2 separate regions of the Homo sapiens genome follow, and region 1 is linked to region 2. The links come from fine-mapping of genetic effects on gene expression. A gene starts in region 2. The other region holds a variant in brackets. All regions are shown on one strand. Distances are from middle to middle. Region 1 overlaps C10orf95-AS1 (C10orf95 antisense RNA 1). Region 2 holds the start of C10orf95-AS1 (C10orf95 antisense RNA 1).

Evidence for each region. PIP is the estimated chance that this variant, and not a neighbour inherited with it, causes the effect.
Region 1: its variant is fine-mapped to the expression of C10orf95-AS1 in caudate (GTEx, PIP above 0.99). The same link has a PIP of 0.9 or more in hypothalamus.

What each region holds. Positions count from the first base shown.
Region 1 is chr10:102,456,071-102,458,974 of GRCh38, forward strand. It overlaps C10orf95-AS1 (C10orf95 antisense RNA 1), which reads left to right. Exons shown (of 3, transcript NR_038938.1): 3 at 1-223. Among named protein-coding and RNA genes, the nearest start is that of SLC68A1, 3.9 kb to the right of the region's middle. RefSeq lists enhancers at 1-77, 78-665, 666-1,254. The variant T/C (reference allele first, on the strand shown) is at 1,765.
Region 2 is chr10:102,448,124-102,451,027 of GRCh38, forward strand. C10orf95-AS1 (C10orf95 antisense RNA 1) reads left to right here and starts at 1,694. Exons shown (of 3, transcript NR_038938.1): 1 at 1,694-1,899; 2 at 2,064-2,207. It overlaps C10orf95 (chromosome 10 open reading frame 95), which reads right to left. Exons shown (of 2, transcript NM_001363580.1): 2 at 1,714-2,904. The coding sequence ends at 2,329. RefSeq lists silencers at 2,255-2,334, 2,375-2,864.

The sequences.
Region 1 (2,904 bases), 7.9 kb after region 2:
CAATGACTGAAAGACTTAACCAGCCATCACCGGCTTTGAATACGGAAGACGGTCATGAGCCAGGGAATGCAGGCAGGCTCTGGGAGCTGAAAAAAGCAAGAAAATGGATTCTCCCCTGGAGCCTCCAGAAGGGATGCGGTCCTGCCAACCCCTTGTCAGTGAGCCATTTCAGATTTCTGACTTCCAGGACTGTAAGAAAATAAACTTGTCTTGTTTTCAGCCACCAAGTTTGTGGTGATTTGTTACAACATCAGTAGGAAACTAATACACCTCCCTGCTCCTGTTTATAACTTCGTCCCTGTCCTAAAATCCCAGCACCTGGGAGTATTCACGGCTATCCATGGACTGACCACACCCCAGCCTGGAGTTCAGTAGTGGACCCATGGCACTGGCCAGGTTTTCCATCTCTTCTGGGTGGAGAGTGGGGAGCAAGCAAGACGAAGCTCAAGTGGAGCCTGGGAAGGAAATTTTCAGGCAAAATGAGAAAAATAATGGCCAAGCTGTGAGTTTCTCAGTATTTGTTCACCCTGATTCCAGTGCCAGTCCCCAGTATTTTGAAGTCCCACACCTTATCTATTCTCAGGAAAGTAGTTCTGGTGGAGTTGAATCTACTGTATCCTTAGGTTTGGGTGATTTAGGGCTAAGCCTTTCAGCACAGCCATCCCTCTGGCCATAGTGATTGACTTGGGCTAGCCCTTGACATGATATGGGCCAATGCAAGTCAAGCCTAGGACTTTATTTTCTTGTTGGGTGGAGGGGATTTTCTGCTTTTCCCAGGACAGAAATCAGAAAGGGTCCTGGACTTAACTTACACAGGCCAGTAAATTCCTTCTTTATTTAAGCTAGTTTAAATGGTCTATTGCTTCCACCAATGATACACCCCAGGATATTTCCTAACCGTCCCCCCCCCCGCCAGCACTTTGTTATGAATTATGAAAAAAAATTTTTTTTTAGACGAGTCTCTTTCACCCAGGCTGGAGAGCAGTGGTGTGGTCATAGCTGGGCTCAAGCAATCCTCCCACCTTAGCCTCCTGAGTAGTTGGAACTACAGGTGTGCCTCACCACATTCCACATAATTTTTAAAAATTTTTTATTTTATTACTACTTTTTGAGACAGAGTCTCACTCTGTTGCCCAGGCTGGAGTGCAGTGGCGCGATCTCGGCTCACTGCAACCCCCCGGGTTCAAGCGATTCCCCTGCCTCAGCCTCCCGAGTTGCTGGGACTATAGGCGTGTGCCACCGTGCTCGGCTAATTTTTTGTATTTTAGTAGAGACGGGATTTCACCATGTTGGCCAGGATGGTCTCGATATCCTGACCTTGTGATCCGTCCACCTTGGCCTCCTAAAGTGCTGGGATTACAGTTGTGAGCCACTGCACCCGGCCTGATTTTTTTATTTTTTGAAATTTTTTATAGAGATGGAGTCTCACTATGTTGCCCAGGCTGGTCTCCACCTCCTGGGCTCAAGCGATCCTCATGCCTCAGACTCCCAAGGTGCTAGGATTACAGATGTGAGCCACTGCATCTGGCCATGAAAATTTTCAGTATATAGCAACCTGAGAAGCTTTTGCTCAGGGAAGCTTGCGATCGGAAACTCACTTGAGGGCAAAATGGAGGACAGATTAGAGAGCGTGGGGGTGGAAGCTAGTCATGGAGGAGGTTCTCGTGTTAGCTTATGAAAGCTGAGAACCAAACAGGAGCAAGGGATGGAAAAGACAGATGGGAGTAGGATTCACCTGGACTTGATCCAAGATGGTGGTTTTGA[T/C]GAAGTGCGTAGGATGGAGGGTGGATGCACATGTTTCCGCCTTGGCCACCTCAATGGACAGTTAAGGCAGTCCTGGAGGTAGAAAATGCTGGAGGGAGATTGGAAGTTTAAGGAATGGTGAATTCGGATGGGCCATTCTGGATATTCTCTTCAGGTTGGACATGGGAGGTGTGGAAGTAGTCATGAAGGAAAAGGTACTAGGTGAAATTACCGTAACAGCTGCCACCCTGGGCTTGTCTCCATCTGGTCCCTATCACACTATTGACATCTTGGCTGCCAGCTTGTTTGGACCCCACTCAACGCCTCTTGCAGGTAGCTATCTTGTTTTTTTTATTTTTTGAGACAGAGTCTTGCTCTGTCAACAGGCTGGAGTGCAGTGGCGCGATCTTGGCTCACTGCAACCTCCGCCTCCCGGGTTCAAGCGATTCTCCTGCCTCAGCCTCCTAAGTAGCTGGGATTACAGGCATCCATCACCGGGCCTGGCTAATTTTTTGTGTGTTTTTTAGTAGAGATGGGGTTTCACCATATTGGCCAGACTGGTTTCAAACTCCTTACCTCAGGTGATCCGCCCACCTCGGCCTCCCAAAGTTCTGGGATTACAGGCGTGAGCCACCGCACCTGGCCAGCAATCTTGTTTTTGAAGTCCCCTTTACCTCACAGCCTGTGGCCTGGCATGGATTAAAAGTTTGAGTGAGTATATGAGTATTCAAGATGGAAACTTGGGACACCCTCCCTTTTCCTTTAGAGGCCCTGGGAGAAAGTGCCGCAGTGAAGGGGACTGAGGAGGAATTATTAGGTAGGAAGAGAACATGGCAGAAACTAGATCAGAGAGGTGGGAAGTAAAGGGAGGAGAGAATTTCAAAGACAGAGAGTGCACAATCTATCTGTCCCATGGTCCAGGGACTCCGGTATGGCTCAATGAGTTAGGGAGGTGATATGGCCTCTAGTTCATTGCATTTCCCCTCCCAGTTAGCTCTGTGACTGGCAACCACAAAGAGAAATCAGACAGAATCACAAGGCCCTGCCCTGATGCTGACATAAAAGGTAACTGGCTACGTTGTCTATATAATCAGAGGGTTGAGGGGCCTCAGAGTGTAACTGTGGGGCATTAAGTGCAACGTGAGAGACCAAAGGTCTTTT
Region 2 (2,904 bases):
GGTGGCCATGCCTGTGATCCCAGCACTTAATGAGGCCAAGGCGGGCAGATCACTTGAGGCCAGGAGTTTGACACCAGCCTGGCCATCATGGGAAAACCCCATCTCTACTAAAAATACAAAAATTAGCTGGGCGTAGTGGCACACACCTATAATCCCAGCTACTTGGAAGGCTGAGGCAGGAGAAGCGCTTGAACCAGGAGGTGGAGGTTGCAGCTGCAGTGAGCTGAGATCATGCCACTACACTGCAGCCTGGACAACAGAGTGAGACTCTGTTTCAAAAAAAAAAAAAAAAAAAGACACAAAGCAAATTTGGCTCTGAGCTCCTTGGAAACCAGGACCAAAAGAAAAATATGATCAGTAATGAGATTCGTAGCGCTTAAAAGACAAAAGCAAACCACTGATCAGGAGAAACACCTTTTCCAAGGGCTGAGGTTTGAGACAACTTCTCCAAGAAGCTCACAAATACAGCAGTGCCCAATCAGCTGGCCTACAGCTTCAATAACTCACCTGTGTATACCCAGGTAACTATTGGTCAGTTACAAATGGAAGTTCAGTAAAAGAAATTTCTACAGCTGGGCCTCAAATCTGGCTAGATCCTAGTTAAAATTGGCTATGTGGCCTAACATTCCAGAAAACTCCTAGAATATTGCAAACCTCAGCCTATTAAGAATTAACGATTATTAGCAAGAATTGGGAGACAAGAAGATACATTCATCTTTTTTTTTTTTTTTTTTTTTTGAGACGGAGTCTCGCTCTGTCGCCCAGGCTGGAGTGCAGTGGGGCCATCTCGGCTCACTGCAAACTCCGCCTCCCGGGTTCACGCCATTCTCCTGCCTCAGCCTCCCGAGTAGCTGGGACTACAGGCGCCCACCACCTCGCCCGGCTAATTCTTTGTATTTTTAGTAGAGACGGGGTTTCACCGTGTTATCCAGGATGGTCTGGATCTCCTGACCTCGTGATCCGCCCACCTTGGCCTCCCAAAGTGCTGGGATTACAGGCATGAGCCACCGCGCCGGGCGGAGACATTCATCTTAACTTCCAATTAGGCCGGGCCGAGACATTCATCTTAACTTCCAATTAGGCTGGGTTACTTTTACGCCTCTTTTACTGATGAAGAAACTGAGAGTCAGAAAGCCTTAAGTTACACAGGTAGAAAATGTCAGAGCCAGCCCTAAACTCAGGTCTCAGACATCCCTCTCCTAGTGAAGCCTTCCACACTTCAAAAATAGAGCTTATGCCCTCAGCATCTCGGAGGGTGGTGGGCCAAAGGACCAAGGAGAGTTAGAAGGTGCTGGCCTGCACACTTGGAGGGAGATGGTGAAGAGGGCAGCTGGGCCCAGCGATCAGACACATGCTTTCTCCAGAGGGCCAGTTCAACTTCACGCCCCTCCACCCTACCTTCCTGTACCCCAGGGTGGGCGGTAAGACTCCCATTAAACAGATAAACAGATGGAGAAACACCACCCCAAAACATAACAATGATCTCGCAGTGTATACTTGACTTCGCTCATTTATTTATTGTTTTTTTTTTTGTTTGTTTTTGTTTTTGAGACAGGGTTTCAGTCACCCAGGCTGGAGTGCAGTGGTGCGTTCGCGGCTCCTTGCAGCCCCGCCCTCTCGGGCTCAGGTGATCCTCCCATCTCCGCCTCCCGAGTAGGTGGGACTACAGTAGTGTATCAGCACACCCGGCTATTTTTTTTTTTTTTTTTTTTTGTAGAGACAGGGTTTCGCCATGTTGCCTAGGCTGGTCTCCAACCTGGTCTCCTGGGCTCAAGCGATCCGCCCGCCTCGGCCTCCCACAGTGCTGGGATTCCAGGCGTGAGCTACCGCGCCCGGCCTATTTACTTTTCTTACTAAGCTGGGGATCACCGTCGCCCTCGGCTTGGCAGGAAGGCGGGGGTAGGGGAGCGGTGGGAAAGGGGGGTGGGCGACGACTCTGATAGAGGGAAAAGAGGAAGGGAAAGTTGGGGCTTACTGCAGGGCAAGCTCCTTAGGAGAAGGTGGGGAGGAGGAAGGAGGGAGGTCCAGGCCCTTCTTCCATCCCACGTCCTCCACTTCCCAAGGTGCAAGAAGAAAAGAGGTACAGAACACCCAGAGGTGCCCTCGATTCCGTCTTGCACTTGCCCTTCTCCCACCGTCCAGCAATAAAGCGAGAGAAACAAGTGCAGGAAACTGGCCGGCAGTCATGGGAGAAGCCAAAAAGACAGGTGAGCAGCGCGTCCGCCTCCCGCGCACAGGTGAGGGCTCACTTCTGCCTGTCGGCGGCGGCACACACAGGAAAGAGCCAAGCGCGTGCACGCGGGCCCGCCCCTAGGCCTTGCGGCGGCTTCAGCTCAGGCCCTTGCTCTTCCTGGGGCGGCCGCGCTCCGCGGCTTCCCGGGCTGGGCTGCTGTCGCCGCTGTCGGGCCGGCGCCGCACGCGCCACTCCACGCGGTGGTCGGGCTCGAGCACGCGCGGCGTCGCCTGCAGCAGGAACTGGCCGCGGCGCTGGGTGACGCGCACGTCGGCGCGGGGGTAGGTGCCGTACGCGCGCCGCAGCTCCCGGCGCACGAAGTCCGGTAGCTGCAGAGGGGGGCCCCGCGCGCGCTCCACGCGGCCCCAGCGCAGCTCGGTTTGCAGGCTCCCGCCCTCCGGCCACGGCGCCCAGCTCTCGGCCACCGCCGCGGGCGCCTGCAGCGACAGTCCCGAGATGCCGGCGGCGGCGCAGGGCCGGCGCAGGGTCGTGGCGTAGGCCGGAGGGCAGGCCCACCAGGGCGGCGCGGCCTCGGGTGGCGCGGCGGGGCCGTAGAAGCGGTGGTATTCCCGTGGGGCCGCCCACTCGCCCGCATGCAGGCTCCCGGGCCGGCTGCGGAAGCTGTGGGCCTGGACTGGGGGTAGCAGCAGAGGGGCGGCCAGGTAGGTGCA